Regions from separate parts of the Homo sapiens genome. Here regions 2, 3 and 4 are each linked to region 1. The links come from fine-mapping of genetic effects on gene expression. A gene starts in region 1. Each other region holds a variant in brackets. All regions are shown on one strand. Distances are from middle to middle.

Region 1 (5,715 bases):
AAAGGATCTGTTATTCTGTGTACTTTTCTGCTTAAAATGTTTCAAAATTATTATTTTAAAACTTGGAGTTGGAAAAGGTGATTTGTCTCAAGTCAATTAATCCTTTACAATCTGTTTTCTCATATGTTAAATAGGCATGTGAATACATGCCCAACCTATTTCACTGGGTTGTAGTGTTTTTGCTAATCACCAAGTATTAGAATACTTGAATACTGCGCCAATTAGTTCAGTCTGTGAGACCACAGTCCAGATTAGGATAAGGTTAAGGGTTAGATTATCGTGCAAACCTTTTAACTCTACTTCAGGGGCAAGACTACACTCTTACTTTCCAAGAAGCATAAAAGATACTCTGGTTACAAGAGGAGCTAGGCAAGTCTAGGTGTGATGTCTCAATCCATATCCAGTAGAACTACTGAGCAAATAACCTTAGTAACTTGATGATGGGCTACTAAACAATCTCTGTATAAGGAGGCTGGCACACCCAGTACACACACACACACGTTTTGTTTGGGGTCTGTAATTGTGGTTCACGTGGAGGCAGACGTTGTTTGTTTTTTGTTGGAGGAGACATCTGAAAACATCTAATCTCATCCTGAAGCGCCCAGCTGGTTTCAAACTGCTTTATTTCAGGTGCTTCTAAAAGACTTGGTGAGTACAAGGAAGTGATTCTGCTAATTTAGAACAAACCCATCGGTAGTTAAAATTTAATCTTAAAAGAAACTTGGAACCAAGCATCTAACCAAAAGAGCTAAAAGCAAAGTGCTAGACTCTGGGATAATACCCACAATATTCTCTAATCACTGAACTAAACAAAGATGCTCCTGCGCTCATAAGGCTAAAAACAAAAATAACCTTTAAAAATGGGGGGTCTATAATCTGAACTCTAAGAGTAACTTGTAAGGTCTTCTTGATCTCCCTAAAGCCAACAATTTTGAAGCGTATTTGGAAATCGCTCATTTCTAATTTTTATTTCTCCCACTCCTCACAAGAACCAGGAAATATAACAGACCCTTCCTTCCTTGAATTTAGTTAAGCTTTAACTAAAACTAAGCATTTAACTAAAGGTAAAATGTTTGGTCTCTTATTTTCAAACAGAAAAATAAAGTCTGTATTAGCCACTCAATAAAAAAGCATAATGTCAAATCAGAAGTCTCTAGAGCAGACCCTAGTCAGCTTCAAAGCACTTTCACAGAGTGAATGGTCTTAAGCGTACCATAACTCAAAGCCCCTAGATTAAGTCTTTCAGTATAAAGTAGCATATACATTTAAAATGTTATTAAATTTCTAATAATTAGATATTAAAAAGACTCAAGATGCTGATACTTTGTAGCTTACAGCATTAAACCAAAGAAGAACCAAAAACTGAACAGTATCAAATCCCTATTACATACATATCTACAGTCATCAAGAAACTACCGGTTTATCTTTTCTTTCACTAAGGGGCCGCCTGCATGTTCACGGAAGTTGTAGTAACTTAAGAAAACCAAAACTGTTATACAGTGAAAACAGTTTGTATGCAGATAAGCTGGTACCAACTGCTTCTAGACAGATGCAATTACAGTGTAATATTTCTAGCAAAGTCTGGTAAGGCTACGCCTGCAAATCACTGACCAAAAATGGTAACAGTGTGTGCACACTAACGAAAACGACAAAATGTTCCAACTGATAGTTCAGTTGAGAATACGTTTTTAAATAGCTAATTAGAGTGACAGTGTAAAGGGGGAAAATATGTAAATTAAGCAAAATGTCCATCATATAGAATATACTAATGAGCACCTGTTTACTTTCTGGTGACTCCAGTATTTTAATGGTTTTTAAAGCTCTTAAATTTGGTTGTATCAGCATCCCAGCATCATGCCCACACCTTGCGCACCAAGTTCTGGCAGAGTCCAACTGTCTACAGGTCAGAAAAAAAATTCTAACCATACACGGACAGATCGGGCAGGGAAGGGTTAAAACAGACACTGCCAAGCTTGACAAGCACGACGAGAGTGCTGCTGGAAGCCGATTGCCAGATAAAAAGAAAAAAACAAAGGAGCTGCAAGGCCACCCCGTTCTAAATCATGCCAGGATCCTGCTCGTTAGCGATCATTCCGTGCTCTAGGACTGTTCCATAAAGGCTTTATCTTCCTTATTGAGATGGACAGACCTCAAGGGCTGGAACGCGCACAAGTCACCAAGCGCCTCAGCGCCAGCTCTGGGGAAACCCACGCCAACAAGGACGGTGGCCGGATTCCGACGCCCCCCGCCCCCCACTCCCCGGCCTCGGTGTGCAGACCCCCGGATGGATTTCACAGAGCGGGTGGGGGCGCTCGACCCCAGCCAGTTGTTGCAAGGCCGGGTCTGGAGACACCCGCAGAGGCCACGCTCAGGGCGGCGGCCTCGCCCCAGCTGGGAGCTGCGCAACAGCCGCGGATCCACCCCGGGGCGCGGGGGCCCAGCCAGGACGGCGGGAGACGGAGGCCCAGAGACCCCCCCTCACCCGCAGCCCGGACACTGCAGCCGGACCGGGTCCCTCCCCGGGCTGAGGCACGGCTCACCCCCTTAGCCCCGACTCCGCGGCGCCCCAGAGACACACTGCTCCCGGCCGCCTCGGCCCACGCCTCGGCCTCCCTCCTACTCACCATCTTCGCCGCGGCGGTCGCAGGGACGCGGGGGAGGGAGCCGGCGGGCAGCGAGTATGCAGACCGTCCTCCTCACGGCTGCGGGACCGAGAGACCCAGCGCTGAGCTGACGCGGCGGCGCGAGCTTACCCCGGGGCGGGCGCGCCTCAGGACGGAACGCGGCTGCGCACGTCACGCACCGCCTGCCGTTGCTACGCAACCAGCCGGCCAGGCAACGCCCCCCCGGCGGCTATCCAGAGTCTCGGAGGGGAGCTTCCCTCATCTGCTGAAGGCTGCGGGGCAGGGTCCGCCTCACCAGAAAGTGTTTAGGGGTGGGGGTGCGTCCTCTCTGGTCTGCAGGAGGCTAGAAGGCGGACTGGGCTGGCTCCTGCTGGCGAGGGGCGGGCAAAAGATGATGGGGGAGGGGTGGCCTTCCTTCGCCTCCTCGGCGGGGCCACCTGACGCCCCACCCACTGTGCAGGCATGGCCCGCGCGGGGAGGCAGCCACCTGGCCAGGTGTGCCTGCCGCTGGGGCGGGGCGAGGCCGTGGAGGGGAAAAGGAGGGGAGAGCCGGGGGAGAGGGGTACAGAGTGTGGGAAGGAGGGGGATTTGGAGGGGAGAGGCGAGGGGCACATAGTTGGGGGAGGAGGAGGATGGAGAGGGGAGGGAAGAGGTGAGGGAGAGGGGACAGTGTGGGGAGAGGAGGGGGATGTGGGGGGAGGGGCGAGGGGGCACTTAGTGGGGGAGGTGGGGGCAAGGGGAGAGGTGAGGGAGAGGGACACAGTGGTGGAAGGAGAGAGATGTTGGGGGTTGGGAGGGCAGGGCCCGAGGAGGGGGAACGCACTGGGGGAGGACCCACGGGAGCGGAGTCGCGGGCCGCGGCAGCGGGGACGCCTCCCGCATTTTTTACCTACTTTGGTGCGATTCCCGCCGCCCTCCCCTGATTGGCCCAGTCTGGCTTGTCCTGCCCTCGCGTGAGGGGAAAAAAGTCTGCACATTTTTCCTCCTTCCCGAGGCGACCGTGGCCATGCAGAGTGCTCTGTGAGTCACCGTTAATTTCAGGTCTGGAAAAACAAGGAGCATTTATTTATCTTTGGGAACTGCCGGGGAAGGAGGCCGGCGGCGCGCAGGGGTGTGGCTGGGAAAGGCCGCGCTGTCCCGGGACGGTGGCGCCAGCCCCGCCGCTCAGTTCTCCGGGTTTTTAATTTGGAATTGTGTTTTTCTAATGGGCGGTTGCGTCGGAAACACGGTTTTCAGAGGGCCCAGATGAATCCCAGCGTTTTTGCTGCGGGTGTTTTTGTGGGAAATAAAGGGAACAAAGAATTTTATAAATTAATTTAGGTTACCGAGAACATCATGGCCTCGACCAAAACTATTTTAATTCTCCAAATATGAGACTTTTGGACAAGATGGTCAGTATTTTTTTTTCCGGCACTACGTAAAATCTAGGTTGTATGTGGCTTTTGTTCTGCCCCACTCAACATAGGAACCCATTTCTCATTACCCTCGTTCTTTTTAAAAAAGACAGTAAGTTGTGCAGTTCTAAGCCTTTACCACCTGAGACATGATTTTTGGCGGGCTAGAGCAGTGGTTCTTTAGCATGCATCAGAATCACCTGGAAAAGTTGTTCAAAGCTAGATTTGTGTGCCCCATCCCCAAGGTTCCCTCACTGCTTCTAAGATGATGCTTGAGAATGGGCATTTCTAACAACTCCTAGGTGATGCTGAAGATGCCAGTCCGAGACCACACTCCTGAACTGAGAAGGAACCCCCCTGTATCCTCCTGCAGCTGGAACCCTTTGCTTTTCTGCCTGCCTAGGACCCTGTGGCCCTTACACTTCTTAATATTCAGACTTCCTTTCTAGTCCAAAAGTGAATGGTGCTCATTTAAGGATACATGCCTGCCTGCTTGCTCCAGCCTCTCCTGCATTTCGTCCTCCACTCTGCCACCAGAGTTAGGTCCAAACATAAGACTGGTCTTGTTACATTCTTGCTTAAAATTTGCTGTGGCTTCCTCCATAACCCTCAGCAGGTCAGTCTGGCCCGTCTGCCTCTGGCCTCAGCCTACTTTTTCTGCCCTATCTCCCATATCTTCCTAAGTGCCCACTGCCCCTCCCAGACGAAACTTCTCATTCCAGAACACCTCTTACTAGTTCTAACTACCTTGATCATGGGCCTGCTTATTTTTTCAGCCTGGGATGTTCCTATCACCCTTCGCATCTGAAGACTTCTCTTACCACTTCCCAAGGATCAATAGTAGTTCCTTCTTTTTTTTTTTTTCGTGCCCCGTACCCCTTACAACTCCTTCACCCCCCTAGTTCCTTCTATAATCCCAGAGTTCATCACTTCTCAAATCTTTTTTTTTTTTTTTTGAGACTGAGTTTCACTCTTGTTGCCCAGACTGTAGTGCAATGGTGCGATCTCGGGTCACTGCAACCTCCGCCTCTCGGGTTCAAGCGATTCTCCTGCCTCAACCTCCCGAGTAGCTGGGATTACAGGCATGCGCCACCACACCCGGCTAATTTTGTATTTTTAGTAGAGATAAGGTTTCTCCGTGTTGGTCAGGCTGGTCTTGAACTCCCGACCTCAGGTGATCTGGCCACCTTGGCCTCCCAAAGTGCTGAGATTACAGGCCTTAGACACCGAGCGCCCGGCCACCTCTCAAATCTTAATAAAGATCCAAATCACCTGAGATCCTTGTTAAACTGCAGATTCCGGGGTTGAGGGGTGGAGTCTTAGATGGCCCCAGGAGATGCAGATGCTATACTTTGAGTTAGGAGGTTTCATGGTTTTTTCCCTACAATTACTGTAGCTCTGTAATTATTTATGTGCATTTTCCATTACTACCAGATAGCTGGGAGTTCCTTGAGGTCATGGGGTATTTAAGATGCGTATGTATGAACTGGCATAGCCCCTGATACATAGTAGGTGTTTAATAAGTATTGAATAAGTGAACCAGTATCTGAAGATGTTTTACAATTTATCAAACTTATATATCAGTTTATCATAACTTAAGATGAGCCCCCATTTTTTTTAGGTCCCACTGAACTTCAGCCTCTGCATTTAACACCCAGCTTTTCTAGACATTGACATTCCTCCTCTCCACACGGAGG
Region 2 (5,715 bases), 78 kb before region 1:
CGTAGACTGAGGAAGTACATATGTACATTCTGAAGACCCCACAGTTAGCATGAGCTCCAGAACAGTGTACTTTTAACTGGAGCTTGCTTCACTCATTGTTGCTGCTGGTTGGAAACAGGTGTTTCCTCATTACCTCTGCTAGCACGTCACTCAGGGGATGCGGGGATGCAGGGTACTTGTTGCACTCTTGGGGAGTCTGGAGCTCACCCAAGGACCTGTGACCTTTCTGCCTAATGGACGGGGGTGGGTAACCCTGGGGACATGGCACTTCTGTCTTGGCTGTGGGCCTGCTTTCTGCGGGGCCCTCTTTCCCCAGCCTGCTGATGCAAGCCAGTTTTACTCTGTGGCCAGAGAGACCATTGTGTCATGGCCCAGGAGAACCCACCCAACCTCCATGAGGTGGCAAACACTCAGAAACAGGCATTTCAGAGGCCCATTCTTGCCACGTTGTCAGATAAGTCCATGTGGGAAAAAGAGGCCACCTTTGGGAGGTAGGATTATGGGTAAATGTTAGTATCTTCCTTTCACCCTTCTGCATTTTCCAGTTTTTCTATAACTTTTTTTTTTTTATGGAGAAGAAACAACTCCATTATGTGTCTCTAAGTCAAATAAACAGGCCCTCATTATACCAAAGCTGATGGAACTCTCATCCTTCTGGGTGTTTTGAGGCAGCCCTGTGTCCTCTGAGGAGCAGCAAGGAACACGTTGCTCCTTTTGGGGTCTGGAATGAGGAAAGGTAGTGCCAGCTCTTCTGAGGCCTCCAGAAGGAGGCCAGTGCGTGTCCCAGCCCTAGCACACAGGCATCTGGGAGGCATTCATGAACTGAGGTAAGGTGGGAAGTTAAAGGCAGTTCCCACATTCTGGAGCCTGGCAGTGCCGTGGTGGGAGGGGGCCTGTGAGCTCTGTGTCGTGTGCAGTCTCGCTGAGCCCCCATTCTACCCCTACAATAGGAAATGTAACCTAAAATCCCAAGTCGTGTTCTGCAATCTAATGGGGCTGGGGTCACAGGTCAGGGGGTATGGGGAAGAGTTGTCAAGCCCCCAGGAAACGGTATTCAAGGTGTCTAGGGTAGCAGGGCCCTTAAACAATTTGACTTCGTGATGGGAACACCCCTTGCTCCCAGCTCCTCACCCACCCACCCACCCACGCCTGTCCTCCCCATGTGTAGCCTGCTTTGCTCCAAACCCAGCGCTGCTTAGCACAGCAGGTCTGACGCCACTGCTCTCCCCAGCCAGGTGTTTGTTCAGATGTGCAGTTTAGGAGGCTGGTTTCCATGCCTTTATCCCTCGTGCAATTCTCTAAGGTGGATTTGAATTTTTACCTGTTTGACAGAAGCAGAAAGCAAAGCTCAGACTTCCCAGAAGTCATGCACATGACCAGCAGATGGCAGAGCGGCCGGTGTGGGCAGCCCCTCCCGAGGCCCCCGCCCTGCCCGGCAGGTGCCCCTGTGCCCTTCTCGCCGGCAGTTGCACAGAGAGGTGTACACGGAGATCAAGTCAGATACTTTTTCTTTTGAACCTAACTCAGTTTCTCAGGGTCTGAAGCTCTGAAGAAAACTCTCTGGGGCTTATGACCCTTTATTCACTTTCTGTGGAAGTTCTTCAAACCCAACTTTTTCTTTTCTTCTTCTTTTTTTAAAGAAGAACAAAAACATCCCCTAGGGAAGCGAGCCAAGTATCAGTGTGAGAAGCTGCTAGATGACACTCTTCCAGAAATCTCTTTTCAGCCACTTGAAAACGTGTTGAGGCTGGGACTCCGGTCACTGCCCCCAGACGGCTGTGGTCAGACAGCCTGGGATTAAAAATCCCCTGCCGTTTTCTGCAGGCATTAGGTAGAGTCCTAATTGCTGTTTAAACTGTATTCTCCTTGGGCCAGCCTGTGTGCCTTGGGAAGGGCCTTGCCCAGAGGTCCTCCAGGAATTGTCGTTCTTTTAAAAATATTGTGATGTGGGTTTTTTTTAACTCCAGGTATAAAATTGGTTTTGTTGAAATTTGGAGGAAAAAACAAAACTTTAAAGAGGAAAACAGTTCTTCAATCTATAGGATATTTTAAATTCCATTAGATACCATTAAATATACCAGTCCCCAAGTTTGTAGCCGATTACGTTTTTCTCCAACTAAAGGAAAAGGACTGATTGAAAGGCCCTGAATTGGGTTGTTCTTGACATTATTTGTACTGAGCTCCATTGCCCTTAAAGCTGCGGATGTGACCGTT[C/T]GTGGCATTTGGGGTCAAGTGCAGCTGCGCCTCCTTGGCCTGCTTCCTGTCAGGAGCGCTGAGCAGCGCTTGGGCAAGGCCGGGCTCTGTGGCCTGAGCTGGGCCTGGAGTCCACTGTTTGTGCACTGCCCAGGGCCTGCCTCAGCTGTGGGCAGATGAGCAATGAGTGAGAGCAGGAGTCGCAGTTTGCCTCCAGGAGCATTTGGTAGATCTTCATTTCCTCCAGGGTCTCATAAAGCTCACTTCCCCCACAGGCTCAGGAGGAGCCTTCACGGCCACAGTCCAAGAACGAGCAGTTAGAGGCCAGCAGTGATGTTGGCCGGAGCTCCTCCCTAGAGAGCGTCTTGCGTCCCACCTCGGGGTGGGACCCTGAAGGGAGCCGGCTCCTCAGGTTGAGAGAGACAGAGATGCCCTTGGCTTTGGGTCAGCAGGAATGGGGAGCTTGTCCTCAGCCTCTGAATCTTGGTCTGCAGAGGCTGATGACTGCTTGCGTGGTGCTGGGCTTCCAGGAGGCATGTGGGAGCCCTTTCCTGGGGCCCCAGGGTCTTCACCTTCTTACAGCAGACCTGAGTTTGGGTCGGGTGACTGGGGACTACAGGGCGTGGAAGGCACGCCAAGATTGCGATCTGGCTTGGGCAGCCATGCTGGGTGCCTTGGTCTGCACTGTCTGGAGTCACCCCGTGCAGGCCCGGAGGCAGCAGCTATTCAGACTACATGTGTGTGTCTGAGGGAGGCACCCTCAGAACTGATCTGGACAATCTCTTAGGAAATGAGAGTTTTTGCCACTGGAGTTCTTCCCCAAGCCCTCAAGTCCATGCTGTTTCAGGTTCCATTGCCAGAGTCCCTGGGTTGACACCTGGGCCTCTCTCCCACCAGCTCAGCTTCCTGAATACTCGGGCCCAGATCCTGGTCCTGGGCTCTTAGGACCCAGCGGGGATAGGCTCTTAGGACCAGGGTCCAGGCCAGCTGGTCTGCCTGCTTCCAGCCGCATCCCCCTGGGCATCCTGAAATCTTTTTCTCAAATTCAAACGCTCCTTCCTAGGCATCGCTTGTTGCCTACAGAATAAAATCCAGATTCCCAGGGCCTATGAAGACTTGGACCTAGTCCAACCTCGGGTGCAAGTCTGACACGCTAGGGCCCAAAGCCCCTCACCGTGTCCTTACCCAGCTATGCTTGGCCCAATGCCTTAAAGCCTTTCTCGGCATTGCTGCCACAATTGTTCTCCAGGTCCCCCTTGTGTCACTCTTCTGCCTTATGGCCCTGTGTCCTCTGCCTCTGTTGGCCACAGCCCAACCTATAACTTAACTTTCCAGGCCCAGCAATTTACGAACTGCTGGGTATGCAGGTGGTACATACTTTGTGTCTAGAGACCACCTGGCCCTGCCTGCCCTGATCAGGGCTGCTGGGCACCTGTAGCAGCAGCTGGAGCTGAGCCGGAGCCTTTTGTGGGGCCCATCCCAGGGCCAAGGCGATAATCCCCTCCTATTAACCACCAGCTGCTGCCAGGGCTCAGGCGGCAGTTCCTGGAGTGGTTCTGATACCCTCCCCGTGGACTGAGAGAGCCAGGTGTGCACAGTGCAGGGGTGCTCCAGCAGCTGATGTGGGGGGCTGGCCGCTGAGTCTCATGAGGCCACTTAGGGCTGAGATCCTCCTTCTATGCCTGAGCCCTGGCCATGGGGGATCCTGGAAATTATACAGAGAGAAAAGCCTCATCCAAGGACGCCACAGTTGACAGTGAGAGAGAACACTAAGTGCCTCTTTGCCAGATGAGTTTAATTTTAGGTGCCTGAGCCTCCCAGTGTGGTCGCAGAAGGGAGAGTCATTTTGAAATTTGGGGTGTGAGGTGCGTTATCTGAGCTGCTGTGAGCTGCTTGAAGGCCGGCCATGCTGATTTATTTTGCTGTGCGTTACCCTGCGCCAGGCATGGTTCCAAGCACGTTGCAACTTACTCTTTTCAGCCACGCTGTGAGGGGAACAATGATCATCCCCGTTTTGTAGGCAAGGAAACAGAAGCAAAGGAAGGTTAAGCCACTTGTCCAAGGACAAAGGTGGGAAGGAGCTGAGCTGGGATTCGACTCCAGGCCACCTGGTCCCAGAGGCCTTGCTCTGACCTTGGTGCCCCACTGCCCAAGGACAGAGGTGACCTGCAGACTGGACGTGGCCCACGGATGTGTTTGTTCATCTGTACAGTGGTTTCATTCATTTATTTGTTTTTTATTGAGTTAGCTGTCAGCAGTAAAGATGAGAAGATAGCACTTAAAAATCTCGTTTCCAGGCTCTTGGGCAGGCCTGTGGCTTTGAGGGTTCTGGCTCAGATTCCCCCATTGCAGCTATCACCTGGAGGTGAAGTGCCGTGCCCAGGACCACCCAGCTCAGGAGAGGCCACCCCCCTGAGCCCAGGCCTGTGTGGTTATTTGTCACAGTACCTGTCCCATTCCTGCAGGGCCTGGCCCCTGGGGTGTTGCTGTGTCCCCTGCCAGACAGAGGTCTGGATTATCCATCAAAGTGAGACACTGGCCTGCGTCTCTACTCTTGGGTCTCCTGCTCCCTGGTCACTCCCCAGGCCTCCTGGCCTGTCCCTTCCTGGTATTTCATACCCACCAAGATGGGCAAAGCGTTAGCCGCAGGAGCAAGCCCTCAGGGAGCTGAGCTTTTCCAGCATTCACTGCACCCTGGGCCTTTTGAAGTCTGTGATTTCACAGACTAGGTGTTGAGTCTGAGAGACTTAGTTTAGTGCGTTAAGATTTCACAATTCGGAAGATTACTGGTATCTTCGAGTATTTGCTGGAGCCCTAAGTGATGTGCTGGGCACGCCTTAGGCTCCCGTTAGTACGTTATTTAAATGCAACTCATCTGGAGGCCCAGAAATCCTGCCTCTGCTTCTGAGGGCTTTCCTTTTTTCTTTCAGTTGTGCTGCCCTTGATTTGGGGACAATTGAGACAGCAGAGTTTTTACCTAAAAGATTTAATGAAAAATGATTTGTAAAGTTATAGCTCTCTAAAAACAGTATAAAAGGTAGTGTTTGTATGAGTGTGGCAAAGGCTGTGGAAGTTTCTGGGGGGCCATGAGAGGTGGCAGAGGAGAGCGTTAACATTTTGCTGTACGCAGCTTTGCGTTTGTTTCGCGTGTTGCAAGTTTTTATTTTTCTGTTAAAATATCTAATAGAATGGAATTACGTTAGAAAGTTTTAATAAAGATTTATGAGAATGCCGCTCCGAGAACACTCTCGGGAGCACTCTGTGGACTGAGCCTGCGGCGGGTGAGCATGTGGCCATGCTGCCCCTGTGCAGGAAGCGGCGTCCTAGAGCGCGTGCCCTCCAGCTGCCTTATCCAGATGTTTCCCCACCCAGCAGTGCAGTAGGGGCCGTGGGGCCTGGAAGGGTGGTCTTTAAGGAGAGAGTTCAAGAGAGGCCAGAGCTCTTGGGTCACTCTGGAACCTCTGTAGGACCAGGGGCTGCCAGGAATTCAGCAGGGGGCACTTTGGGGGTCCCTGGTTCTGG
Region 3 (5,715 bases), 47 kb after region 1:
AGTTAGTATTTAATGGGTACGGAGTTTCTGCTTTGCAAGATGAGGAGTTACAGAGATGGATGTTGGTGGTGATTTCACAACATTATGAATATATTTACTATCACAAACTATATACTTAAAATGGTTAAGTTGGTAAATTTTATGTTATGCATATTTTACCAGCCCCCCCCCCCCCCCCCCCGCCATACAGAAAAAAACAGAAAAAGTGATACTGGCTTACCCAAAATGTCATTGGCTTATCCAAAATGTTTCTCACTTGTGTAAGGTCTGGTTAAGCAGTTTAGTATGATACTGTACAGTATTTGGGACACAGAAGGTTCTGTGTGGCCTTCAGGAAGGCAGCATTCATGTTTCTGGCTGCAGGATGGAGGGAGGGATGGAAAATGAGAAGCAAAGGGCACACATACACCATTACTTAACTAAAGGTATCTGGAAGCTGCCATGCAGACTTATGCTTCCATCCCATTGGTCAGGACTTAGTCACATGGCCACACCTGGCTGCAAGGAATGCTGGAAAATGTAGTCTCCCTTCTAGGCAGTCCTGTGCTTGCCAAGCATCAAGGGCTCTAACTCCTGAAGACAGCAAGAATGGGCATTTGGGGGTCACCTTATAGGGAACAAGGGGAGGGGTCATTTAGGAAGGAATCTTCTCTCTTTAGGGTTAAAATTCCCCCAGAGGGACGTGCCTCAGTTGTCCCAGCCGAGCAGAAAAGGAGCTGGGGTACTTATGCTCCAATTTGCCTCATTCAGAGTTTGTGGGCTGCTCCCAGAGGCCCTGACTCCCTGGCACGTCCAGCCTGCCCCACCCATTTGCCCAGAGGAGGCCATCGCTGTGTGGGGAGTGATGCTGCTGGGAGGAGGGAAAAGTGTGCGGAGCATCTGCCTGAGTTTCCTCATCTTTAATGCAGCACTAACAATAACTGCTTTCTTCTGGGGTGATGTAAGGATTAAATGACATAATCCAGAAAAACTGACAAATTACATGTGTCAGCAAATAAAATACTATAGGAAATCCAAGTACGGTCAGGTTAATGGTGGTGTAGATTGTGCAGGGCAGTCTCCCATCTCTGCCACTGCTGCACTTGGGTTATAGATAGGCTAGGATATAATTCCCTCATCCTTGGGGTGGCTGGGAATAAGGCTGTAGGGGCTGGGGTTGGTGCCTTCGGGCTGGGAGACTCCTATTCCGCTAACTGCCCCTGGTTACCCCACGCGGTGTGCAAATGGTACCACTTTCTGATTGGGAGGCAGTCAGCTAGGAAATGCAGCATTCGTTAGCTACTACTTTAAAATTAAGACCCTCTCCTTAAAGGAGAGGGCATCGTACCCAGGTTGAATTTAATGCTGATTATGTGATCCATACATGTGAAAGCATGGTAGTTACCCAACTCTCACTTATGTGTCCAATTTGCAGGTATGAAAATGAGTGCGAATGTCAACTCCTGCTAAAAGAAATGCTTGAACGGCTTAACAAGGTGAGCGGAACACATCCTTGGGTTTACGTAGCTTAATTACAGTGTTGAATGGAATGGTGGAAGTGCAGGTTTTACAGGCTTCCTCTTTGTGTTACTTTGGCGGTCACTACTTCTTTTGCAGTCACTCTGTCTCTTGACTTGTTAATTTCAATTGAGTCTTTATGAGTGAACTCACACACCCATACACACACCCCTCTCTCACGAGAGAAACACAGACTATGAAGCTTGTTGGTTATGCTAGGCTAGCAAAACCTGCCGGCGTTACAGTGACAAGCTGCTGTTTTACTTGTCAGACATACTGATGCCCAACACCAAATTTAGGAAGGACCTTGCTTTGGGCAGTGGTTATTTGGACACAGTGATACCTCTGTCCTATTGGCTAAGAGTTTTGAGATTGCGGCTCCACAGAAGTCTCAAGATAACAGAGGAAGAAATTTCTATTTCCTCTAGAGTTCCCTCTTATAGCGTGACCAATAGCCCCAGGGGAGATGCCAGGGGTTCTTAGCCACTTGACTTTCCTGCAGGGTTATGTGGAGTTGCTCTTTACAGAACAGTGGTGATTTCCTTCTTGGGATTCTTCATCATGATTCTAACTAACTGATTGGATTTTCTGCTTTTGCTGGGAGAATCCCACCACCAAAAAGCAGAATGATTCTGGACCACCAGGGTTGTACAGAACCAGGGATGGCACATAGCTTTAAGCATGGCCCTTTTCTGATCGTTTTTGAGCTCCAATGTCAGAGCAGAACGACCCATGGAGACTATTTAGTGGAAAGGCTGCTTGATTAGGGCACATGGGCTGCCCTTCCCCGCCCCTTCCATGCCTACAACTCATCAAAATTGCTGACAAAACCGCAGACTCTTCCCTGCCATGCCCAGGTATGCTTTAGGCTTCTTTGCCACATGGAACTCCAAGCAGCCTCTTTGGACAGTCAGGGTTAGCGCCGGATGTTTGCCATCCCTTCACTTTGTCCAGCCTTTGCTGTCTAGGATTACTCTGCTGGTTGAGGGGAAAATCAGAACTAGAATCTAGGGGAAACCCAATTTTGCTTTGTCTATGTTACCTGCCCCTCTGCGCGTGAGCACGTATGATATGTTCAAACCAGGACAGTGTGCAAAAGAGGGTGCAGTTTGTAATAACACAGGTCAGTCAATGCAGGCTGGGACTCTCAGGACAGCTAGTAGGACACTTGGGCACCCTAGATAGAAACACAGAGATGGCAGTGAGAATGCACTTCAGGAAGGCCCTGAGGACACACGCTCAATAGTTGGCTTGGAAAACGATGGCCTCGAGCCTGTTGGACATCTGAGCTGGGAGTTGGGCCTTATTAGTGTCTGACATCACTCTGCTATTCTGCTGACACCTGTAGCTCATCCCCATTCTTCTGTTTTGTGCAACCTCAGACTGCCAGAACATGGCCTTCAGACACGGGGACCCAGCACCCTTCACAGCACCCCTCAGGCCCTCCGAGGCCCTCTCCCCAACA[C/T]TTCCACATGTTGCTTTGTGAGCATCTGTCCTCACTTGTCACTCACGCAGTGCCATCCTGGGTACTCTTCAAATAAAGGGGAGAAAGAATGGGGTTCCTCTTTTACCCTTGATGGAAAATGACAGTGAATTTAAAAAACAAGCTTAAACTTTCTGTTGTTTTTCTCTTTTTACAAAAGCAATCCATATTCTCAGTAGAAAAAATAAGGCAACATAGATAACGAAAAATAAGGAAAAGGCATCGCATAATACACCTTCATGTATATTGTGACATAGAGTGTGGACATTTGAAGTATCAGCCCTGTAAGAATATTATGAAGGTTCTGGGGAAAGATGCTACCAAGAATGTGGGTGAGACCAGCACAGGCAATTAGCATGACTGGCCCCTGGGTCCAAGTAAGACAGTACTGCCCGCAGGTGAGCTGCAGAGCCCCAGCGAGGAGTGTAGCCTGTGACTAGGAACCTCCTGCTACAGCTGAGCATCTGTGAGACTGTGGGCCAATTGCCTTGTCCCTCTGAGCCTCGGTTTTTTCATCTGTGAAATGGAATCACAATACTCCCCACCCACCATAGGAGTGAAAGTGCCTAGTGAGAACTAAATGATGTAATAATGTATATGACTTGCCCATCACCTGGTGGTGCTGAATCCCTGATCACTGTTATTACTACAGAGCACTTGATGTGACAGACACCAGCTTGGTTTTCTCCACAGTGTGGGTGCAGAACCCTGTTGAAATGGGAGGTGACTTTAGAAAGTGCATGGAGGAGTGATATTTAATAGTTGTGAATTTTTTATGATTACCTGTTATTTACAGCGGATGACATAAAATATTCCTTTCCAAATAAACCTACGTAAGAATGAGTACCTTTAAAGACAAATACAGAGTGAATAAGATGCAGGTGGTCCTTGGATAATAGTAGAAATCATAAACACAGCAGGCAGATGCAGGACGCTGGGGAGGGCCTTGTGCAAGCCTGTGGGAGCCTCAGAACAGCCCGTGGTTATTGGGGGGGCAGGTTTTATTCTCAGAAATGACCTATTCCAAATCCTTCTCTGGGCCAGTGAGGAAACTCACCCTTGATGAGGTTAAATGACTTCAGAGCCTCGCAGCTCAGCCGTGGTAAGTGTAGACAGGAGTTGGGGTCTTTTGTATTTGTGGTTCATTCTCTACCTCCAAAGAATAGTCAGGGAACCGGTATTACTCAGAGGCCAGACACGAAGCCAGAGAGTTCTCGGCTATAGGTGGCCCCATGGACCTTGATGTTGGTGTCCTGTCCACACACCTTGGGCCATGCCAGTGGTCACTCAGACACGCTGAACACCCTGATCACTGCCTGCATCTCGGGCTCTGGGAACATGCATGGCCCACATCAGTATAGTCCAGAAGCGCTGGGTGTTAACACCCCAGGAACAACCCTCAGTTGCTGTGGACTGGGATAGGTGGATAAGTTCCCCACCCCTCATAGTGATGGTTCAGAGCCACATTCCACATGGTCCCTCAGAGGGACCCCAGCCGTACTGAGCTGTCTACAATGGCAACCTGCTCGTCACATTCCTTCATTGGTTTTGTTTCCTTCTCTGGCTCACTAGCCTCCCTTACCTGTGCTTCCTGGGATCACCTCCCAGATAAGCCACAGGTACCCAGTCTTTGCCTTGGGGTCCACTTCTGGAGAACCCAAATAGTCCCTCAAGGGCAGGGCCAGGTGAACACTGGACCTTTTTGTTCTCTGCTGAGATCATCAGATGACATGAAAGAGGCTAAAATTCACATCGCATCAGCTGGTCGTGTGAGTGATTTTGGCCTGCAGGTTTTGGGTATTTTCTTACATCAGATCAACGAGGTTTTAGCTCAGTCTCAGTGGCCATTTCCTTTGGTCTGACTTGTGGAAGGGATTCATCCCTGGGTGTGGCCGTGGGACATCACTGATCCAGTCTTTGCATCCTACTTGGAGGATATTGCAGTGTATGTGAAAGGACTGATGGCCCCTGCCTTCACAAAACCACCATGCATTTCTTCATGCTGCCCGTGTAATCAAGCCTACGGAAAGAGCTCCTGTAGTTTTATCAGCCAGATAAATTATAGTAGGCCACTCTTTGCTGTGCACTTAGAAGTGAAGTAAACTCCTCAACACGTTACCTACAACCTATGGCCAAAGTTATTCAACTTCTCAGCCTTTTGATGTAGTAGGAATTCCAGGTGACTTTAAAATATTTGGGTTTGCTAACTTCTAGATCTCATGGTCACCAAATATATACGTATGAAGTTACTGGTCTGCTATGATGCCTGATTTGCTTATCTTGAGGAAACTGTAAGCAGCAGACTTTAAAATCTCCCTCTCCTTTTCTCTTTAAAATTCCCAGAATTTTAAAATGATGTGGTTTCTAGTCAAATGCTTTCACTTAAAAACAATTTTAAAAATATTTAAAGGCTGACATATATACTTTTTCATGTAATTCATGTGTCTCTTAAACGTGCCTGTGGAAAGCAGCAAGAGGCCAGGGAGTTTAGGGGATAAAATGGTGCAGGCATGAAGCCCTACCTTCAGGGCTATGCCTTTGTATGCCAAGAATTCCTCTGAGCCCGGAAATGAACTTCCGGAGAAGAGAAGGAGAGGAAACTGGGAAGGAAGAGGAGGAGTCTGGGGGTGGAGAGGCAAGAGGAGTGGAGGAAGAGTCAGGATGAATGCAAAGGGAGAGACAGCAAAGTTGAGGAGACTGAGGCAGAGGCAAGAGAGAGGGTGGAGAGATGTAGA
Region 4 (5,715 bases), 65 kb after region 1:
CGATCGCAGCAGGAGGAACCAAGTAAGGCACTTAAAACTCCTCCTTCTTGTGAGACAAACCCTGGCTCAGGGACCATGTGCCTCATCCTGGTGACTGGGGCCTGTGTGGTTTCTTCTGAGGCTCTGACAGGATAGAATAAGGGTTGTATGTGTTTGTGTACATGGGGTGTGTGTGTGTGATATACATGGTATGTGTGATATATGTGGGATGTGTATGTGAAGTGTGTGTGGTGTGTGTGTGTCATGTGTATGTGTGTGTGCTGTGTATGTGAATAGGGACGTGGATACAAGCCCAGTCGTGGTCCTAGAGACCAGTGTTTTCCAAATGGCTAGTGACAACTCATTTTTGGATGTAAAATGAACTCAGTAGAATTGACTGGCATGTAAAAGGAAGTCAACAAAATGCTAGACTAAAATATAATAAGAAAAACAGAGTGTACAGCAAGTGAAAGGGAGGATTTGTTTTGTGAAGCCCTTGTTTTATCTCTCTATATCCATATGGATATGTTGAAATACACACACACACACACACACACACACACACACACCTACCTATCTGATGTGTATGGCTCGCAATGAGAAATGTGGTTTTTCCTGGGGCGGTGGTGATAAAGTTGAAAACCACTGCCCTAGAGATACTGAGAAAGATGAAGGAGCCCAGCCTAGATGGCAAATTCCAGTTCCAGGACAAAAAGAATGTTCCTCTCTTTATGTACAGGTATTTGTTGAATATCAAAATAAGAAATTTCACAACAGATTAACCTGGTTTCTGAGAACATGAAATGAAACCGCTGGTTGGCCGCCTGTTTCTGTCCTGAGTGGCTGCAGGAGGACTTCCTGGCTTTTCCCTGCTGCCCTCGTCTCTAAAGCAGGGTCTCAAACATCTCTTCTGTGCTGCCTCCTCCACTCCCACCCGTGGCATTCTGATGGAGACCGCTTCTCAGAAAAATGATGGTAAAGGCATAAAATAAAATACAGATAATTTAAAGGAAACCAGGCTGGGTGTGGTGGCTCACGCCTGTAATGCCAGCACTTTGGGAGGGCAAGGTGAGTGGACTGCTCGAGTCCAGGAATTTGAGACCAGCCTGGGCCACATGACGAAACCCCACCTCTACAAAAAATACAAAAATTAGCTGGGCGTGGTGGTGCGTGCCTGTGGTTCCAGCTACTTAGGAAGCTGACATGGGAGGACTGCCTGAGCCTGGAGAGGTTGAGGCTGCAGTGAGCTGAGACTGAGCCACTGCACTCCAGCCTGGGCAACAGAATGAGACCCCGTTTCCAAAAAAAAAAAAAAAGAAACTAATTATATTAAAACAGTTATCAAAATATTACTGAATCATTTTAAATAAAATGACAGATGTGCTTATACTCACTCAGTAACAAGCTATAGCATGTAGCTGATGAAACACGGCTGTGTCCATTTTCTGTTGCTGCCTTGATGAGTCACCACCAGCACCCGTGTCATCGCAGTTGTGTAGGTGGGAAGTCTGGGTGGGTCCTATCGGTTTCTCTGCTCTGGGTCTCAAAAGGTAGAAAGAAAGATGTTGGCCAGCCTGGGCCCTTGTCCAGAGGCTGTTAGGGGAGAATTTGCTTCCAGTCTCATTCAAGTTCTTGGCAGGAGTGAGGACCCTGTTTCTTTGCCGGCTGCTGGCCAGGAGTGGCTGTCAGGGCTGCCCAGGCTCCTTGGCTTCAGGCCCCTCCACGTTCGGAGCCGGCAGCGAACTCTGAACCCTCTTCCTGCGTCTCATCTCAATGACTTGGACTTACACGTTTCTCTGACTTCTGTTTTTAGGGGATAATCTTGAATAAACTCCTTTCCTTAAAAAAGGGTAACTGATTAAGAACTTTAATTATATCTGCAAAGTCCCTTTTTGCCATGTAACATATTCAAGGGTGTAGCACCAAGGGGAAAAGGTCACGGGGGCCAAAATTCTGCCTCCTTAGCTCTGATGAAAACCCAGACGTGGCTGGGTGCGCCCGGGAGCTCCTGACTCAGTGGGTCTGGGGTGTGGCCCGGGATGCTGCATGTCTAGGTGTCCCTGTGATGGTGCTGCGGCTGGTCCAGGAGCCACACTGAGAACCACAGGGTAAGGGCGGGTCCCAGGGAGTGGGCGAATGTTCCACCTGGTCCCCCTGTGTCCCAGGCTTGGGCCTCATTTCAAATGTTTGTGGCTGGGTTTTTGCTGGTTTTAAAGGTTTTAGTGGCTTCCCAATGTAGCAGCTAAGCTAGAGCTGAAGGAAGATGTGGCCGCACACCGCCGGGCAGGGCCCGC[T/A]CTGTGGCCGGAACTCGGTGGAGGGCGGGCCGAGAGAGAGCGTCTGCTAGCACCAGGGCCGTGGCAGCGGGTTCCGCCTATGGTTAGGGCGTCCGAAGCTTCCCGAACTCTCCACAGCAGGGGTCGTCAGGGTGAGGTCCCCGTCCCAGCAGCGGGGGCACCACCTGGGAACTTGTCAGAAATGCAGATTCACAGGCACCCCAGACCACTGACCCAGGAGCTCTGGGGCGGGCCGGTGCGCCTTGTTTAAGCCCTCCACGTGGCTCTGCGGGCTCAGTCTGGGAGACGCTGGGCGGACGATGGGAGAATAGTGCCTGGGCTTGGAGCTGGAAGCTGGAAGCCTCTCCTTCAAATAAGTGCACATATACCCGTAAGAGCCCCGGAGGAAGCACTTCGGACAGGTGGAGAGGAAAGGACAGGTAATTCTAGTTCCCTAAATTGCATGGACTGAGAGTTTCTGTGACAGGGAAGTAAAGAAAGTCACTTTTTAAAATTGCAAAGTGGGAACCGCCCATGTCTCATTTCTCATTAAAGTCACTTAGCACCATCTAGTGGTTTAGTTTGTGTAAGACAGTATGTAATGAGTTTCCTTTTTTTTTTTTTTAAGACAAAACAAAAACAAAAACAAAAACAAAAAAAAAACCTTACACCTAAAGGTGTCTGGGGTCCTAAGGACTGAGGTGAGAGCTCACCCCTCCAGATGGGGCTCGCGTCAGGCTCCTGCCTGTGTCGTGCCCTCAGCGGCTCACAGCCCAGTGGGGAGACAGATATAAACCAGGCAATCTAACGGTCCAGGCAGAAACAGCAGTCACCTGGCTCCGGATAAAGTTCAGGTTGCCACATGGCCCCACCGTTGGAGGAACCCTGGGCCAACCTCTCTTCTCTTCGTCTCCTGACCCCTCCTGCAGTTTCTGGGACCTCCCCTTTGCTCATTCCTTCTCTCCTTTCTGGAAGTCCCTTTCCTTCCTCGGTTCCCAGGACCGGTCCTGCCTCCTCCTGGAAGCCCCTTTCTTCCTCTGAGATGCCCTGGGCGTGCCTCCCCTGCTGGACTGCGGCCTTCTAGAGGAGGGTCCGTGTCTCATTCTCCTCGGCCAGGCTGGTGCTGGGTGGCAGTGGACGCCGTGCCACAGTGGCTCTCGTCACAGGCATCTCCATTCCTGTTGAGCTCCTGAGACAGGAGCTCTTACTGGTTTTCCTGAACACTCTTCCTTCTGATGAAAGGTTTAAATTATGGAGCTGTAAAAACCACATCGGTATAGACATCAGTCCACTTTTATAAACCAAGTCATCACTTCACTGGACTCAGCAGAATCCCGTAGAGCATCTGCGACCAGTACGGAGTTGGAGGGCTCTGGGCCTCATGGTCATGTGGGGGATGGGGGCTGTGGGGGCGCCCAGGACAGGAGCTCCTCCCGCAGTGTTCCAGCAGAGGATCTCCAGCCTTTAAAACATGCAGCCTTCTTCAAACAAACACAAATGCACACCCAAGAAAACACCCCATCCCTCCACCCCCTACCACTACCACAAAAACAACAATCACCACTTCCTGAGACATAAAAAGATTGCACTCCACTTGTAGGGTAGAAAGATCACAGGTGACTTTCCTGGGCTCTCATTTCCCATTCTGTGATGCTTTGTGGTTCTATTTACAGTTTAAAACTTTGCTAAGTGAAAACCTGCAAGGAGAGGTCTCTGCATGGCTCACACTGACTTTCCCATGTCTTCAGAGAGAACAGGCTGGTGTTGGCCTGTTGCTGTGTGGGAATGGGGAGTTTGCAGGGGCCCTGGAGACAGAGTGTGTGTGTGTGCACGCACGTGTGTGCTTGCATATTGTTGCCTGCAGCAGGGAGGAGGCTGAGGTGCAGGGCAAGGGTGGCCTGGTTCTGGGAGGTGTTTCAGACCTTGTTCAGGTAGATTCGAATCCTGCTGTGGTATTTATGGGCAAGCCACTTTGCCAGTGTGCCCCAGTTTCCTCATCTGTAAAGTGGAAATAATGACAGCCCTTCCCTGATAAGGTTGTTGTGAGGTTGATGAGTTGACCCAGCTTAGGACTTATCAGCATGAGCCACTACCCCCGCTCTGGGCTGGGGAACCCACACCCAAAAGGAACGGCCACCCCAGAGCTCTTGGGTCAGTGATCTGGGGTACATTCTCTTCATATGTAATTTTTTCTTTTACTCTTTATTATGGAAGATTTCAAACATAGAAAAGTGAGAGATTATAGGTGCTATGGCTCACGCCTGTAATCCTAGTACTTTGGGAGGCCAAGGTGGGAGGATCACTTCAGCCCAGAAGTTCAAGACCAGCCTAGGCAACATAATTAGACCTTGTCTCTACAAAAAAAAATTTTTTTTTAATTGGCTGGGCATGGTGGCATTCACCTGTGGTCTCAGCTACTGAGGAGACAAAGGTGTGGGGACCACTTGAGCCCAGGATGTGGAGGCTTCAGGGAGTCCTGATGGCAGCACTGCACTCCAGCCTGGGCAATAGAGTGAGACCCTGCCTGTCTCAAAAATTAAAAGTGAGAATAGTCTGTCTCATGAGCCCTCCCGCCCCATCCCTCAACACATGGCCCCTCTATGTTCTCTACAGCCCCACACACTTCCCTCACCATGTAATTCCAACACTTCTTTGAGATTTGGGGCTCAAAGGGGTCTTTTCAATCCCCATATTCCTTGAAAGTGTTTCCTGGAGTGTCTGAACACTCTGGTGTGGGTGAGATGTGGCTGCACCAGGCGTTAGTGTGTCTGACTTGTATTTGCTATTACAGGCGACTGTTTGAATCCAGATTTCTTGGGAGAAACAGAAACTGGATCACACTAGCTGAAACAGGAAGGGGACTCTTGTTTTATTCAGAAGTAATTTTAGATTTTTGAAAAGTTGCAAAAACAGCACAGTAGCTTCCAATATATACCCCTCACCCAACTTCCACAAAACCACGGGCCGATGATAAAAACCTGGAAATTAACAGTGATCCTGTCGCATTAATAGACTGCACTAAAATCTCACCAGTTGCTCCACGCGTGTTTTTTCCTGGTCGAGATCCTACTCACATTTAGGTGTCATGTCTTGATTGTCTCCCCCATACTGGGATGGTCCCCAGTCTTTCTCTGTCTTCCATGACCGTGATGCTTTGGAAGAACCCAGACCAGTGGCTTTGTGGCATGTCTCTCCTTTTGGGTTTCCCTGATGTTTTCTCAGGATTAGATGGAGGTTCTGCATTCTTGGCAAGACCCCCATGGAGTGACGCTGTGTCCTGAGTATTTCGTTATGTGGCTGTGTCCTCATACAGGTGACAATAACTCTGATCACTTGGTTAAGGTGCTGTCTGCCAGTTTTCTCCACCGGAAAGGTACTATTTTTTTTTTTTTCCAAAGGAGCAGGGTATAAAAGGCAGGGCATGAAATCTGAGAGCAGGTGTGCATCAGGAATCAGGAACCAG

What was found. PIP is the estimated chance that this variant, and not a neighbour inherited with it, causes the effect.
Region 2: its variant is fine-mapped to the expression of DSTN in whole blood (TOPMed, PIP above 0.99).
Region 3: its variant is fine-mapped to the expression of DSTN in whole blood (INTERVAL, PIP 0.92).
Region 4: its variant is fine-mapped to the expression of DSTN in whole blood (TOPMed, PIP above 0.99). The same link has a PIP of 0.9 or more in blood mononuclear cells.

What each region holds. Positions count from the first base shown.
Region 1 is chr20:17,567,121-17,572,835 of GRCh38, reverse strand. DSTN (destrin, actin depolymerizing factor) reads right to left here and starts at 2,761. Exons shown (of 4, transcript NM_006870.4): 1 at 2,625-2,761. The coding sequence starts at 2,627. It also overlaps a transcript of BFSP1 not described here. RefSeq lists silencers at 2,321-2,610, 2,631-2,820 and an enhancer at 3,231-3,798.
Region 2 is chr20:17,645,017-17,650,731 of GRCh38, reverse strand. The region is part of intron 3 of RRBP1 (ribosome binding protein 1); the gene reads left to right. Among named protein-coding and RNA genes, the nearest start is that of RRBP1, 34 kb to the left of the region's middle. RefSeq lists silencers at 1,368-1,497, 2,147-2,236 and enhancers at 1,649-2,352, 2,417-2,506. The variant C/T (reference allele first, on the strand shown) is at 2,215.
Region 3 is chr20:17,520,608-17,526,322 of GRCh38, reverse strand. It overlaps BFSP1 (beaded filament structural protein 1), which reads left to right. Exons shown (of 8, transcript NM_001195.5): 2 at 1,415-1,475. Among named protein-coding and RNA genes, the nearest start is that of BFSP1, 7.9 kb to the left of the region's middle. The variant C/T (reference allele first, on the strand shown) is at 2,963.
Region 4 is chr20:17,502,106-17,507,820 of GRCh38, reverse strand. The region is part of intron 5 of BFSP1 (beaded filament structural protein 1); the gene reads left to right. Among named protein-coding and RNA genes, the nearest start is that of BFSP1, 26 kb to the left of the region's middle. RefSeq lists an enhancer at 2,786-3,309. The variant T/A (reference allele first, on the strand shown) is at 2,274.